Regions from separate parts of the Homo sapiens genome. Here region 2 is linked to region 1. A link means that fine-mapping ties the variant in region 1 to the expression of a gene that starts in the linked region. Tissue or cell type: spleen. Region 1 holds a variant in brackets; the other region holds the start of a gene. All regions are shown on one strand. Distances are between the middles of the regions.

Evidence for each region.
Region 2: MAGEC1 starts here. The variant in region 1 is fine-mapped to the expression of MAGEC1 in spleen (GTEx, PIP above 0.99).

Annotation. Positions count from the first base shown.
Region 1 is chrX:141,876,155-141,884,481 of GRCh38, reverse strand. It overlaps MAGEC3 (MAGE family member C3), which reads right to left. Exons shown (of 8, transcript NM_138702.1): 3 at 5,051-5,307; 4 at 2,686-3,079. Among named protein-coding and RNA genes, the nearest start is that of MAGEC1, 24 kb to the left of the region's middle. The variant A/T (reference allele first, on the strand shown) is at 5,073.
Region 2 is chrX:141,899,819-141,908,139 of GRCh38, reverse strand. MAGEC1 (MAGE family member C1) reads right to left here and starts at 4,246. Exons shown (of 4, transcript NM_005462.5): 1 at 4,162-4,246; 2 at 3,326-3,423; 3 at 3,064-3,170; 4 at 1-2,731. The coding sequence starts at 3,067. RefSeq lists an enhancer at 2,931-4,130.

The sequences.
Region 1 (8,327 bases):
ATATATAAAGGGGAGTGTATTATGGAGTTTATTAACTCCCATGATCGTGAGGTCCCACAATAGGCCATCTGCAAGCTGAGGAGCAAGGAAGCCAGTCCGAGTCCCAATGCTGAAGAACTTGGAGTCTGATGTTAGAGGGCAGGAAGCATCCAGCACAGGAAAAAAAAGTGTAGGCTGGGAGGCTAAGCCAGTCTAGCCTTTTTACATTCTTCTGCCTGCTTTTTATTCTGGTCCTACTGGCAGCTGATTAGATTGTGCCCATGCAGATTAAGGGTGGACCTGCCTTTCCCAGCCCACTGACTCAAATGTTAACCTCCTTTGGCAACACCCTCACAGACAAACCCAGGAACAATACTTGCATCCTTCAATCCAATCAAGTTGACACTCAGTATTAACCATCACACAATACAATCTCTTTAGACTGAGAATTCTCTCACTGCTTTTGGTATACGGTAAATATCCTACCATGAGAGATTCTAATACCCTCTACATGACTGAACATTCCTGAACAGCTGTACATGTGCCTGTGGCACACTGCAAACCAAGATTTTCCTGTGGGGCAGGTACACAGAAAAGAGACAATGGAAGGATGGTTAACCATAATTTTCTTTTCTCATCAGAGCTAGCCTGTCTGTCAAGGAACACTTGTCACCTTCTAAGCAGTATTAAGGATTTTGTTATTGTTCTGTTTTTAGAAATTCAGCTCCTTGTAATTTATTTACAAAGTGATTTCCAAAATTTTATCTCATATACCAAGTTTATGAAGGAAGCTTTGCTTTTTGACCACCTGGTATAGCTCATTCATCTGTGTATCTCTTCAGTGGCCTGCTTCAAACAATGTTACTACAAATATCATATATTAAAATCCCAATACAAATATCAAATATTAGGATGATCTCAAAAACTCTATCTCTTACCCTAAGATTACATCCCTAGAACCAGTATATTATGTGGCAAATCAGATTCTACTCACCACCCTATGTGGGAGTATTTTGAGAGTGTTTGAAGATGCCCAGGATAGATATGGAATTGTCACTATCCAAACTGAAAATTTACATCAAAGTGCTGAATTTGAATCAAGGACCAACTCCTTTTCACCTTCCCCTTTGCTCATCCATCCAAACAACTATTTCTATTTATCCTCCACTAAAAATCTAGCCCTTGCTTACAGTTGCCCACATTACATTTAAAATAACCTAATTAAATGACCTTTCAATGGAATGGACTCTGGCTCTCCCAGGCTAGGAAAATGAGTGCCAGCCTAGAAGCTTCTGGGCAGCATTTCAAGGAATTATCGCCTTATTTCTCAGGAAACACTTGCAAATGATGGGTATCAATCACCTAGTCCTTGCACTGTGTTCAAGCTCACCAGTTAGAGAGCTGCAAGACAGCTTCCATTACTTCCCCACATGGAGACTCCTCTCTCCCTCATCATCCACCCAGAAGGAACTGCTCAGAGCAGTTTTCCATTGCAGGCTTTTCTCTCACCTTCTGAGAGTCTGGCCCCTGCCACCACCCAGCTTCATAACAATCAGCTCCCACAGAAGCACCTGCAGTTTCCCGAAGCCCCACACTACCTTAGCTCAGGGACTTTATACTTGAAGACTCCATCTGGAGTCTCACCTCCCCACTTTTTTGAAACTTATGATTGTAGAGAGCATCTTACCACCTTCTTGACATGGCTTCTGCTCCTAGACTCTATTGTTTTATAGGTAAGGCATAACTCTTGCTTTTCACTGTATCCCCACTATTAAGAGTCCCCTCCGCAAGCAAATGCTCACAGAATGTTAGGCAAATAAAGCCGTCAGAGATGCTTTTATTTATTAACATTTAATTTCTGCTACTTTCTTGAATGAGCTAAGCAAAGCCAGGTCTATTTCTTTAATTTTCAAGAACAACAGTATAAACGGGATAAGGAAATGTAACTATTCACCATCCTTTATTTCGTTCCACTATTTAACTGCTGAGTTCTTACATAATTTAAAGAAAATTCCTAGTACAATACCATGTTATCCTGTTATAGATCACAAAATAAGAGACAAGCTTTTTCCATTTTTTTTTACAAAATATCAAACTGTTACTCTTAAACTAGATAAACAGCAATATATGTGTGACTAATATTTATAAAATAATATTCTGAAGCTAATTCAACCTACTATTAAAAGGAAAATCATTCAAAAAGTACACAAAAGGAAACGAGGTAAATCTATCTCTCCCATATGGAACAGAAATGCAAAGAACACTGTATTGTTCCCTCAAGCCCCACCCGGGCCCTCCACTACCTAGGACCCTGACTGCCCTCTTCAAACACAGACGTAAGAAACGGCCCTATACTTCACTCAGGACAGGAGAAGTTTCTGGAGATGACACGGAACCTTGCACTGGCCATGGCAGTAGCATCATTTTTGGTGTCAATTATGGCCTGGGCTCTGTCTTCCACATCTTTCAAAGCATCCTTGGAAGAGATTGGAAAGGAACTAGAGACGGTATTGTTTCACATGACCAAAATCTCACTACTTTCCTCTTGCTAGTTTCTGAATGGGCTCTAGGACCCCACAGGAATTCATAACGTGGAGGAGCACTACTGGGCACATGTCGCTACTCCAGGTAATGTCCCTGCACTCAAACTTTAGTGACAAGCTCCCTGGGCTCCCGATAGACGAAATGCTCCCTCTGAGCACACACCCCTATTGCATTCAGCACTTCCCAGATGACCTCCTCAGATGCACAGTTGCCCTTTATGAAGATCACACTCAGAATAAGAATCAGGAGGCGGTTCTGGGGCATGCCCTGCTCATCACTCAGACTCCCCTCACAGGTGAGGTCTAATGTGTTTACAAAGACATAGAAATGGTCGGGGTCCACTTCTGTCAGGGAAATGCCAAAAAGAATCTCTATGAACTCACGGGCTTTCCTGAAGATCATAGGAAAGTAGCCCGTGTATGTGTTGATGACATTCATCTGCATCTCTGCTCTTGTGAGAGGCTCTTTTGCTTGATATTTGAGGAGAAGAAACTGCACCAACTTGTCCACCTTTTCATCCAGTGTATAAGTGAACAAGGGCTCGCTCTCTGGCAAGCTGTGCCAGGTACTTGTATCTTCATCTTATTGGCTGCTAGGCTCTTCATTGAATGGGCTTCATAAAGTGGAGGAGGAGCAGGACAGGGAACCCTGGAGAGGACCCTGGGGAGGACTCTCAGGAGGATTCTGGGGAAGAGGCAGCATCCCAGCAGACAGCTACTCCTCCTCCTCCTCATGAGCACCAAGAATCAGAGTAGAGGATGAGGAGGAGGAGGAGGAGGAAGAGGAGAAAGAGGAGGAGAAGGAGGAAGAAGAGAAGGAAGAGGAGGGGAATAATAAGTAGAAAGAGGAAGAGGAAATGGAGGAGGTTTTCTCCTCTTCCTCCTCTGTGGAATCCTGTGCATCTGCCAAGTTCTCTATCACAGTTTGGTTCTGGAAGTCTTTCTCAAAGTTGCCGCTAGGAACATTTCAAAACACAGGCATAACGTCTTCCTTAGGAGCAGGAGGTAAATGTGTGAGCAGGGATGTGGATGATGGCATCCAACAGGCCTGAGGGAGAGAGGGACACTGCAAGTGGCCTCAGCTGAGAAACTCACCCATGGTGGTTCTGACAAAGGCCGGCTTACAGCTCTTCTTCTCTTAAGGTGGTGCTCTAGGGCCTCACGGGTCACCTGCCATCCTAGGGGGTTTGTCCCCTGGGAACCTGTAGGAGGATGTGAGAAAGCACCTCGGGGCACAGCTGGCAGGCAGAGCCTGAGGCACCAGGAATGGCAGTAGGTGGCTATGGCCAGGTGCTGCCAGGTCTGCTCTGTTTGTGGGGGTAGGGCCCTTGGTACACAGTCAGGGCGTGCACTCACCTTGACTCCTGATATTGCCTGGGCCTCCTCTGCTGTGCTGACTTTAGGAAGTGTGCCTCAGACCCAGGTCTTCAACTCCTGGTTCCTGGAGCACCTGCAAGAGGAAGTGAGGGAGCCCCTCAGGCTAAAGACTGCAAGCAGAGTCTTGGGCCTCCCAAGGCTGACAGCTGGGGCTGACCAGACTCCCAGAGCCCCACAGTTCTGGACTGCATGGTCCCATCAGAATTTAATTAGCATCCTCACCTTTTCTCAGACAGGGCCATGTCCCTACCACTCTTCTAGCCAAAACTCAGGGCAAACTCCACATCCCTGAGAGCAGTGGGAGGTAGTGAGGTGGCAGCCACCTCCCAGCACTCTACCACGGGGGCAGTTGGGCTGGCCTCACATCTGTTCTGATGCACATGTGACTCCTCAGTCCTCACTCTTATCCCCAGCAGGGCCTGGGAATCTTCCCTCTGCCAACTGGAGGCAGCTCCCTGTGCTGATTTGCCACGGGACCCTCAGACCAAGGCCTTCCCTTTCCCTGCACCTCTCACCCAGCAATGAGAGGGCTGCCGCTCAGCCTGAGCTGACTGGGGAGCTCTACGAGGGCTGATATGGAGGAGCATGCTGGGAATCTCTGGGAGTCTGTCCTCTGAGGTGGCGTTTCCCCTTGTCCTTCTCAAAGTCTTCCTATTTATTCCCTAGAGAGCTGGCACCTCCTCCCTTCTTCTGTCATGAAGACGTGTCCCTCAGCCCTCGGTTACCCTCTTCCTGTCTGCGACCTACAATCTCACAGCAGGTAGAGGGCAGGCAAGAGCTTCTTCTTTCTGTGGTGGGAGGTCCCTCAGTTCTCCCTTAGGGCCCTTACCTTGAGGATCGGCCAGTTCTAAGAGTCTTCTGTCTGCTGATCTCAATTAAGCCTTCTCACAAAATGCCTCAAATACTTCAGACTCCCAGTGGGGCTAGGTCTCCTCTCTATGGAGGAACCACCCCTCACCTCTCTACCTCTTTCCCACACTTTCCTGACCACCTCCCGGCCCTTCTCCACCCCTTCCTGCCCATCTCCTGGGCCCCCTCCACCCCTTCCTGCCTACCTCCCCGACCCTTTCCACCCCTTCCTGCCCACCTCTCGGTATCCCTCCACCTTTTCCTCCTCACTTCAAAGCCCTCGTCCATATTTCCCTGCCCACCTCCCCGCTTTCTCCCCCCACA[A/T]CCTTTTTCCAGGGCTGACGGCAGGAAGGGAAAGGGTGTAGCCTGTGCCTCTCCTCCATGTTGGAAGGTCACTGTCCTTCCACAGAGTTCTCTTCTCGTTGAGTGGCCAGTCCTGGGGTTCCTCCCTCTGCTTAACTGAAACTGCCCTCCTCAGAGAAAACTTCCCCTCCGGCTGACTCCCAAAATGCAAGTCAGAAAGTTGTAAACCTGGGGACCCTGATAGGGTCCTCCAGAGCTGGCAGCAGGCACAGGGACAGGGGAGGGGCACTACCAGTCATGGGTGTTCCCTTCCTGCCTTCCCGAGAGGCTGTGCCTGGACTCCTGGAAACCGCCTGGCCTTCCTGCCTCTGTGCAACTGAGTCTTTCACCTCCGAATAAGCCCCTCCCATCCCTGAGACCTGCAAGGTGCAAGAGAGGGAGAATCACATCCACCCACAGTGGGGTGGGGCCTCCCAGGCCCAAGGCAGGACTCTGGTGTCCTTTTTCTAAAATGGGGTGGGCAGGACTCTCTGTTTTCCTGCAGTTATTATTCCTGACATGGCCTGGGAGCCCTTCCCCTGCTGTCCAGAGACTATGTTCTTCAGATCAAGGTCCCCATTTCCATGAGACGCCCCCCAAGACGAAGTGAAAAGCGCTAGCATCTCTGACTGAGGGCCCTGCCCAAGGCCTCCCAGGGGTGAAAACAGGGCCTGGATTTGTGTGTCCTTCTGTTTCTTGGGAGGGGTGTCTCACCAGTCCTTCCTCTGTGTCATCCTGGGGATGCCTGGAAGGGCCTGAGTCCCTTCACCTCTCATGATCTGAAGTGAGACTCACCTAGGCAGAGCCTTCTCCTCTTTCTACCCTCTAAAATGTCAGGGGGACACCACAGTGGGCCACCATGCCCCAGGGCCTCCCAGGGCTGACAGCAGCAGTGGAGCTGGATTCTGTGGATCCTTCTCTTTGTGGGCAGGGAGTCTTGCAGTTATCTCTCAGAGGCTTCATGTGACTACTGGCTGGTCCTGGGTCTCCCTGTTCTTCTCATGATGACAGTATAACATACGGCAAAAAATAATGTAATTTTACCCTGAATAAAGCTAAAAAGCACGATGATGCCATGGTAATCAAGTTAACATCATCAGTGACAAATTTTGTTGGTACTATGTGCTGTCGGTATGATAAGAACGGCACTTCACCTCTCTGTTCATCCTTCCAGGAAACATTACCTACATCAAATCATGACAGAAAAAAATCACATAAATCCCAGTCAAAGTCAATTTTACAAAATACCTAACCATACGAAACTGTCAAAACTGTCAATGTTTTCAAAATCGAGAAATGTCTCAATCAACCGGTACAGCCAAAGGGCATCGAAGGAACATGATAACTAAATGTAATGGAGTATCCTTAGGGGATCCTGGCATAGAAAATAGAATTTCGTGAAAAGTAAGAAAATGTGACTGAAGTATGTTCAATAATAAATAAAGAATGTTTGTTAAAAACAATGTACAAATACTGGCTCATTAGTTTTAGGAAACCTTACCAAGGTAAGGTGTTAATAACAGGAGGCATTGAGTGTGGAACATATGAGAACTTTCTTACTATTGTTATAATTTTCTTGTAAATCTAAAATTATTTAAACATAAAGTTTATCAAATATGAAAAATGTTACCAAACTAGATAAAAGGATATGCATGAAAAACCTACAACAGATACATCTTTTAAGGAAATGTTGGAAGCCTCTAGTTTGAACTTGAGACCTAACCTAGAGTTTCTGCTACAAGTACTTCTATTACTTTTTATACTAGAGGTAGTAGCCAGTGTAGTAATCCAAAGAGCAGTAAATGAAGGAATGAGGATTGGCCAGTTGGAAACAAAGCGTTTGTGATTCATGCATGATTAGACTGTGCATGAAAAGAATCCAAAACAACTAAAGATAATTTATTCAATATATAATAGTATATCAGTTTGCTAGTATAAGGTCAATATTCAAAAGAATATCAACTTCGTTTTTTGTCAGGGAAAGAGTATGAAAATGAAAGTAAAGACTATATAATTTTAACCTATAGTACCAAAATATCAAGTATCTTAGGAAAATAATTTAACCAAAAACATTTTAACCAAATAAGACTGGGAGGCAGCTGATGGCTGGTTAAAATATTTTTTGGTTAAAAAAGCTTAACCAAAAAATTTTTACAGACAAAAATATTAAAATGCTGTTGAGGCATATTAACAAAGACCTACCTGAACATAAAATAAAATAAATTCATGGGCATGAAGATTCAATATTTTAAATATGTTGATTCTTCCCAAAAAGGAATCTACAGATCGACTGCAATCCTAAATCAAAACTGCCAAAGGGCTTTGGACATGAAGGCATGTGTGAATCACCTGATTCTAAAATATAAAGACATGCAAATGGACAAGCATAGTCAATATACACTTGAAAAAGAGTCATTAGTCTACCAGACAGTAAGAATTACAAAGCTACTATAATGAAGAGTTTGAGATTTGGGTGCAGAGATTGACAGATAGACCAAAGGAACTGAATGGAGAGTTCTGAAAAACAAAACCAACAAAACATGTATAAACATGTGCTTAACTGATTTTTAAAACTTGCAGCTTTAGAACAGGAGACAGTCTTCTTGAAATAAGTGTCAGTGGAACAACAGAATATCCATACAAAAACCCTAATGTAAGTGGAACCCTTTTTCATATTAAACAGAAAAAACAATTACAGGGAAATTCAAAACCTACCTTAAAATATGTTTATTATAAAAAACCTCAGAAATACACAGACATTCTTAGAATAATAAGTCTTTGTATAAATTATCTTTAAGCAAGTTCGCAGTATGAGTAAATTAGAGCATCTGTAAGGCTGGATTTGAAAGCACTGAAAGAGGCTGGGGTCTTTGGTCACTTCAGTACCAGGGAGAAGTAAGATAAGAGTCAAAGAGGAGCACAGGAAATAGCAGCTACTTCTGCCCCCTTGTCTCAGCCATAAAAGGCCTGACTGCTTTCATGAACCTTTGCTTCCTGAGAGCAGGACTTGAAATCTCAATAGTGGCTGGGGGAAGGCTACCTGGGACAACTTTGCATTAATTCCCTCTTACTTGGCCAGTCCTCCTGCTGACCTCTGGAACTCTGGGGGTCCAAGAAATATAATGTGAGCAGTTCTACTCCAGAAAGTCATGAATGGGGGATGTTGTGTTGATGACAGAAACCTGACCAGGTCCACAAATACTTTACTGACTTAAGAGGCAGTGCCAGTTTGCCCAA
Region 2 (8,321 bases), 24 kb before region 1:
ACCTTTTCATCCAGTGTATAAGTGAACAAGGGCTCGCTCTCTATCAAGGACTCGCTGTCTGTCAAGGAATCACTCTCTAGCAAGGTGTCTGAGGAACTTGTATATTCATCTACTGGGCTGCTGGACTCTTCACTGAATGGGCTCAATGAAGTGGAGGAGGAGAAGGAGATCACAGGACTCTGGAGAGGACTCTCAGGGGAACTCTTGGAAAGACTCGATGAAGTGGAGGAGGGGAAGGAGCTCACAGGAGAACTCTGGGAAAGACTCGATGAAGTGGAGGAGGGGAAGGAGCTCACAGGACTCTGGAGAGGAGACTGGGCAGGCCCCTCAGGAGGACTCTGAGGACTCTCATGGGAACTTTGGAGAAGACTCGCTAAAGTGTAGGAGAAGAAGGAGCTGACAGGTCTCTGGAGAGGAGACTGAGCAGGCCCCTCAGGAGGACTCTGAGGACTCTCAGGGAAACTCTGGGGAAGACTCAAAGAAGTGGAGGAGGAGCAGATACTCACAGGACTCTGGAGAGAAGACTGGAAGTCCTCCCCCTGAGGAGGAAACTGAGGAAAGTGGAGAGGAGAGAGGGAGTCCTCCCACTCAGGAGGACTCTGAGGAAAATGGAGAGAAGACAGGGAGTCCTCTCCCTCAAGAGGACTCTGAGGAATTTGGAGAGGAGACAGGGAATCCTCCCCCTCAGGAGCACTCTCAGGACTCTGGAGAGGAGATTGGGAGTGCATCCCCTCAGGAGGGCTCTGAGGACTATGGAGAGGAGACTGGACAGGCCCCTCAGGAGGACTCTGAGAACTCTCAGGGAAACTCTGGGGAAGACTGGATGGAGTGGAGGAGGAGCAGATGCTCACAGGGCTCTGGAGAGAAGACTGGAATTCCTCCCCCTGAAGAGGACTCTGAGGAAAGTAGAGAGGAGACATGGAGTCCTCCCCCTGAGGAGGGCTCTGAGGAAAGTAGTGAGGAGACAGGGAGTCCTCCCCCTGAGGGCTCTGAGGAAAGTAGTGAGGAGACAGGGAGTCCTCCCCCTGAGGAGGGCTCTGAGGAAAGTAGTGAGGAGATAGGGAGTCCTCCCCCTGAGGAGGGCTCTGAGGAAAGTAGTGAGGAGACAGGGAGTCCTCCCACTCAGGAAGACTTGGAACAATCTGGAGAGGAGAATGGGTATTCTCCCCTTCAGGAGGACTCTGAGGAATCTGGAGAGGAGACTGGGGAAAACCCTCAAAAGTACTTTGAGTACACTCAGGGGAACTCTGGAAAAGACTCAATAAAGTGGAGGAGGAGGAGGAGGAGCTCACAGGAATCTGGAGAGGAGACTGGGGAAAACCCTCAAAAGTACTGTGAGTTCTCTCAGGGGAACTCTGGAAAAGACTCAATAAAGTGTAGGAGAAAGAGGAGCTCACAGGAATCTGGAGAGGAGACTGGGGAAAACCCTCAAAAGCACTTTGAGCACTCTCAGGAGAACTCTGTAAAATACTCAATAAAGTAGAGGAGAAGGAGGAGGTCATAGGAATCTGGAGAGGAGACTGGGGAAAACCCTCAAAAGTACTGTGAGTTCTCTCAGGGGAACTCTGGAAAAGACTCAGTAAAGTGGAGGAGAAGGAGGGGCTCCCAGGAATCTGGAGAGGAGACTGGGGAAAACCCTCAAAAGTACTTTGAGCACTCTCAGGAGAACTCTGGAAAATACTCAATAAAGTAGAGGAGAAGGAGGAGGTCATAGGAATCTGGAGAAGAGACTGGGGAAAACCCTCAAAAGTACTGTGAGTTCTCTCAGGGGAACTCTGGAAAAGACTCAATAAAGTGGAGGAGGAGGAGGAGCTCACAGGAATCTGGAGAGGAGACTGGGGAAAACCCTCAAAAGTACTCTGAGTTCTCTCAGGGGAACTCTGGAAAAGACTCACTAAAGTGGAGGAGAAGGAGGGGCTCACAGGAATCTGGAGAGAAGACTGGGCAAAACCCTCAAAAGTACTCTGAGTTCTCTCAGAGAAACTCTGGAAAAGACTCAGTAAAGTGGAGGAGGAGGAGGGGCTCACAGGAATCTGGAGAGGAGACTGGGCAAAACCCTCAAAAGTACTCTGAGTTCTCTCAGGGGAACTCTGGAAAATACTCAATAAAGTGGAGGAGAAGGAGCGGCTCACAGGAATCTGGAGTGGAGACTGGGGAAAACCCTCAAAAGGACTTTGAGTACTCTCAGGGGAACTCTGGAAAATACTCACTAAAGTGGAGGAGGAGGCGGCGCTCACAGGAATCTGGAGAACAGACTGGGGAAAACCCTCAAAAGGACTTTGAGTACTCTCAGGGGAACTCTGGAAAATACTCAATAAAGCAGAGGAGAAGAAGGAACTCGCAGGATTCTGCAGAGGAGACTGGACATCCTCACCCTCAGGAGGGCTCTGAGAAATCTCTAGAGGAGACAGGGAGTCCTTCCCCTCAGGAGAACTCTGAGAATTCTGGAGAGGAGACTGGGTGTCGTCGCCCTCAGGAGAACTCTGGGGAATCTGGAGAGGAGACTGGGAGTCCTTCCCCTCAGGAGGTCTCTGGAGAGGATCCGAGGAGTCCTCCCCCTCAGAACGACTCTGAGGACTCTGGAGAGGATACAGGGTGTCGTCGCTCTCAGGAGAACTCTGGGGAATCTGGAGAGGAGACTGGGAGTCCTCCCCCTCAGGACAACTCTGAGGACTCTCAGAGGAACTCTGGAGAAGACTCGGCATCCCAGCAGTAGGCATATCCTTGTCCCCTGGAGAACGCAGAAGCAGAGAGGAGGATGAGGATGAGAAAGAAAAACAGGAGGAGGACGAGGGGAATAAAAAGTGGAAAGAGGAAGAGAAAATGGAGGAAGCTTCCTCCTCTTCCTCATCTGGGGGATCCTCTGCATCTACCAACTCCAGTATGAAAATTGCCTTCTGGAAGCCTTGCTCAAAGCTGGGGCGTGGAAGGTTTAGAAAGAGAGGCATGATGAATATTGTTCAGGAGCAGCAGGTAAACGTGTGAACACGAATAGGTATGATGGGATCCCACAGGACTGAGGGAGAGAGGGACAGTGCCAGTGGCCTCAGCTGAGAAACTCACCCATGATGGCTCTGACAAAGGCCGGCTTACAGCTCTTCTTCTCTTAAGGTGGTGCTCTAGGGCCTCACAGGTCGCCTGTCTTCCTAGGGGGTTTGTCTTCTGGGAACCTGTAGAAGGACGCGAGAAAGCACCTCGGGGCACAGCTGGCAGGCAGAGCCTGAGGCACCAGGAATGACAGTGGGTGGCTACAGGCCGGGTGCTGCCAGGTCTGCCCTGTTTCTGGGGGTAGGGCCCTTGGTACACAGTCAGGTCGTGCACTCACCTTGACTCCTGGCACTGCCTGGGCCTCCTCTGCTGTGGTGCTTTTAGGATGTATGTGTCCCTCACACCCAGGTCTTCAACTCCTGCTTTCTGGAGCACCTGCAAGAGGAAGGGAGGGAGCCCCTCCAGCTAAGACGGCAGCTGGGGCTGGCCAGACTCCCAGAGTCCCACAATTCTGAGGTTCGTGACCCCCTCAGAATTCAATTAGCATTGTCACATTTTCTCAGACAGGGCCAGGCCCCCACCACTCTGCTGGCCTGAGGAAAAACCTCAGGAAAACTCCACATCACTGAGAGCAGTGGGAGGTAGTGAGGTGGCAGCCACCTCCCAGCACTCTACCACGGGGGCGGTCCCTGTGGCCTCACGTCTGTTCTGACGCACATGTGACCCCTCAGTCCTCACTCTTGTTCCCAGCAGGGCCTGGGAATCTTCCCTCTGCCAACTGGAGGCAGCTCCCCATGCTGACTTGCCATGGGACCCCCAGAACAAGGCCTCCTCCTCCCCCTCCCCTACACCCCTCACCCAGCAGTGAGAGGGTGGCCGCTCAGCCTCAGCCACCTGGGGAGCTCTATGGGGGCTGATTTGAGGAGCAGGGTGGGAATCTCTGGGAATCTGTCCTCTGAGGTGGGGGTTCCCCCGGTCCTCCTCAATGCCTTCCTATTTATTCTCTAGAGGGCCGGCATTTCCTCCCTTCTTCTGCCGTGAGGACACGTCCCTCAGCCCTCGGCTACCATCTTCGTTTCCGCCACCTACAAGTGCCACCGCAGGGATAGGGCAGGCCAGGGCTGCTTCTCTCTGTGGTGGGGTTGTCCCTCACTTCTCCCTCGGGGCCCTCACCTTGAAGACTGGATAGGTCTATAAGTCTCCTCCCTCCGCTGACCTGAGACGATCCTCGTCACAAAATGCCTCAGGTCCTTCAGACTCCCAAGATGGCCGCCGGGAAAGCACATCCGGCAAAGCACATCCGGGAACTCTGTCAGGGTTGATCAGGGCTGACAGCCCGGATAGCGTGGGGCGGGGCCTCCTCTCAGAGGAGGAAGGCGCCCCCCCCCCGCCGCCCGCTTGTCAGCCTCCTTTCCATCCCTTCCTTCCCACCTCCAGGATGTGCTCCAAACCTTTCTGCTCACTCCCTAAGCCCTGCTGACCTCTTCCCTCCCACCTCCCCAGTCCTTGACACTCACACCCCACCTTTTTCCAGGGCTGACAGCAGGGAGTGGCAGGGTGCAGCCTGTGCCTCCCCCGTGTTCGGAGGTCACTGTCCTTCGACAGAGTTCTCTTCTTGTTGAGTGGCCAGCCCTGGGGCTACTCCCTCTGTTTAACTGAAGCTGCCCTCCTCAGAGAAAATCTCCCCTCTGGCTGACTCCCAAAATGGAAGTCAGAAATTTGTAAATCTGGGGACCCTGATGGGCTCCTCCATGGCTGGCAGCAGGCACAGGGACAGGACAGGCAGCACTACCAGTCATGGGTGTTCCCTTCCTGCCTTCCTGAGAGGCTGTTCCTGGACTCCTGACATTGTCTGGGCTCCCTGCCTCTATGCATCTGAGTCTTTCACCTCCGAATAAGCCCCTCCCATCCTTGAGACCTGCAAGGTGCAAGAGAGGTAGAATCACATCCATCCACAGTGGGGTATGGCCTCCCAGACTCCAGGTAGGGCTCCACTGCCCTCCGTCTGAAATGGCATGGGAGGGACCCTCAGTCTTCCTCAACCTATTATTCCTGATACGGCCTCCACTCCCTCCCTCTTCTCTCCAGGGACTGTTTTTCAGATCAAGGTTCCCATTTCCATGAACCCCCCAAGAGGGACTGGAGCACGCTAGCGTCTCTCCCTAATGGCCCTGCCCAAGGCCTCCTAGCAGTGAAAACGGGCAGGTTTTTGGGGATCCTCCTGTGTCCGTGGTGGGGTAGCTCACCAGTCCATCCTCTGTATCAGCCTGGGGATGCCTAGAAGGCCCCCCTCCTGATCTTCCGCTCTCATGATCTGAAGTGAGACTCACCTAAGCACAGCCTTCTCCTCTTTCTACACGCTAAGACGTCAGGGGACAGCACTGTGGGTCAACATGCCCCTGGGCCTCCCAGGGATGACAACAGGTGGGGAGCTGGTTTCTGTGGATCCTCTTCTTTGTGGGCAGGAGGTTTCTGCAGTTTTCCCTCAGAGGCCTCATCTGACTACTGGCTGGTCCTGGGTCTTCCTATCCTTCCCAAGATGACAGTATGACACAGGGAAAAAAGTAATGTGACTTTACCCTGAAGAAAACTGACAAACACTAGGTCACCATGGTGATCAAAGTAACATCATCAGTGACAAATTGTGTTGGTATTATGTGCCGTCGGTATGATATGATAAGAATGGCACTTCACTTCTCTGTTCATCTTCCGAGAAAACGTAACCTACATCAAATCATAAAAAATAATCACTTAATTCCCAATCAAAGGCTATTTTACAAAATACCTGACCATACACCTCCAAACTGTCAATGTTTTCAAAATCAAGAGAAGTCTCAGTGAACTGGCACAGCCAAAGGGCATTTAAAGAGACATGATGAACAAGTGTAATGGCGTATCCTCAGGGTATCTTGGGACAGAAAATAGACTTTCGTGACAAGGAAATAAATGTGAATAAAGTATGTTTATTAATAAACAAAGGATGTTTGCATAGGAATAGTACCAGCTCTTCTTTAATAACCACATTTTAACTTCCTTGCCTCTGAGATAATCCCGTCTCCAAATAATGCCACATGTTAATTTCAACATAAGACTTCAGTGGGGGTGCAATTGAATCTATAATAGTGGAAAGGGAAGTGGCAGACCTATATGTATATTATTACCCATGTGTAGTTATAAACACATACATAAGCTCATATATGTATAAATTTTACTTTAAAAACCACATCAATCTTCTCAAAATTCTAAATCAGCTTTTAAATTTAAACACCACACGGTTAATTGTGGAAACTTCTGAATAGGGGGCTGAATTTTGGAGGAACTTTCCAAAAGGGAGAATTGTGATTTCTACCTCTTTTTTTAAGTTTTTGCAACAACAATATATGCAGTATTTATTTGTAAGGAAAGTATTGAAATAAGCCTAAGAAAAGGATGAGGAGCAGTCCAGGAGGCAGATAAAATAACAGTAAGCTCTTGGAACAACAACAAAAAAATCCTTCATTTTTACATGACTCAACACGTTTACTTTTTTGTACATAAATTCTGAATTTAGTTGGCAGGGTATTATGGGCTGAATTTTGAATCTCCCCCAAAATTCATATATCCGTCTTAAAACCCAGTATCCCAGAATGTGACTGTATTTGAAGATAGAAACTTTAAAGAGGTAATTAAGGTAAAATGAGGTCTTAAGGTTAGGCTCATATTCAGTATGACAGGTGTCCTCATAAAAGAGCAGATTAAGATACAGACACACAGACCAAGGAAAAACCATGTAAGAATTTAGTGAGAAAGTGGCCATCAGCAAGCCACGGAGAGGCCAGGGAAGAAATCAAACTGGCCCACATCTTGATCTTAGATATTTAGCCTCCAGAAATGGGAGAAAATTCATTTGTATTGTTTAAGTCACCCCGTCTGTGGTATTCTGTTATGGTATAAGAAACTAATCCACGGCGGGTCCTGGCTTTCACCTCAGCCAGGAATCCAAGCTGCTGTCACCTTATAGCTCCACGTCACAACAGATGTTAAGTGCTGAACGGAAATGAAAGCATGGGAATGATACACTGGCTTCTGTCTAACTACAAATGAACCCGCCAGGAAGGCGAGCTAGACAAGATGGAGATGGGCACTTGCAATCTCTCCCATATGTTATTACGGTGCTCAATGAAAAGCAACTATTATAATTGATGACAGTAAGTGCCTTCATTGCTTGGAATTGTTTCTGGGAATGTCCTCGTAGCCTTGAAATCTTCCAACTTTTTCTTGCACCTACGAGGTGACTGGTGGTTTCAAATTCAGGATTACATCCAGTTTTAAAACAATTCTGTAAGTCTTGGCAGGGAGGGTCTACGTTATTCCCTCAACAGCACTTGGCACTGTCCTTTTTAATAACCTGTATAATTTCTTTAGGCTGAGAATTCTGTCATATTTTTCGTGTACGGTAAATAATCTACCCTGTGAGCCTCTGCTACCCTCCATATGACGGAACATACCTGAACAGCTATACATGGGCCTGTGGCTCACTGCAAGCCAGGATTTTCTTGTGGGGCAGGTACACAGACAAGAGAGAGTGGAAGGATATTTAACTACTGTTTATTTCTCATCAAAACCAGCATGTCCCCCAAAGTATCCTTGTCACCTCCTAAGCAGTCTTCAAGATATTGTTTTGTGTTTTTTAGAAATTCACCTTCTTGTGGATCATTTACAAAGTGACGTCTATAGCCTTTCCTCATCTACAAAGTTTATGAAGGAAAGATTGGCATTTGATCATCTACAAAAGCCTGTTCATCTCTGTTTTCAGTGCCCTGTTTCAAATAATGCATCTCATTAAAATCATACTACAAGTATCAAATATTAGAAAGATTTCAAATAGGCTATTTCTGACCTTAGGATTACATCCCTAAAACCCATATATTATCTGGCAAATCAGATTTTACTCTGCAGCCTGTTTGGTAATACGTTGAGAGTGTGTTGAAGATGCCCAGCCTAGGTATGGAAATGTCACTATCCAAAGCGAATAGTCACATCGAAAGGCCATTATCATAGAGGAACCTGGGGGAGAGATGGATGAGTCAGGGAACTTCTGCAGGCAGTAGGAATGGTCTATCTCAGGGGAAGGCCAGTTGCTTCTAGGTTCTTGCGCTGAGAGTTCAGCAGCCACCTCCAGGCACTCTACACCAGGAGAAATAGGGGCTAGTCTCACATCTATTCTGGTGCACATGTGACTCCTCAGTCCTCACACTTCAGAGGGTGAGACCGTAATGAGAAGTTAGTCAGCAGGCCAGGTTCCAGAGTTGCACAAGAGACCACACAGGGGAGATCAAAAGGAGCTGGGGGGA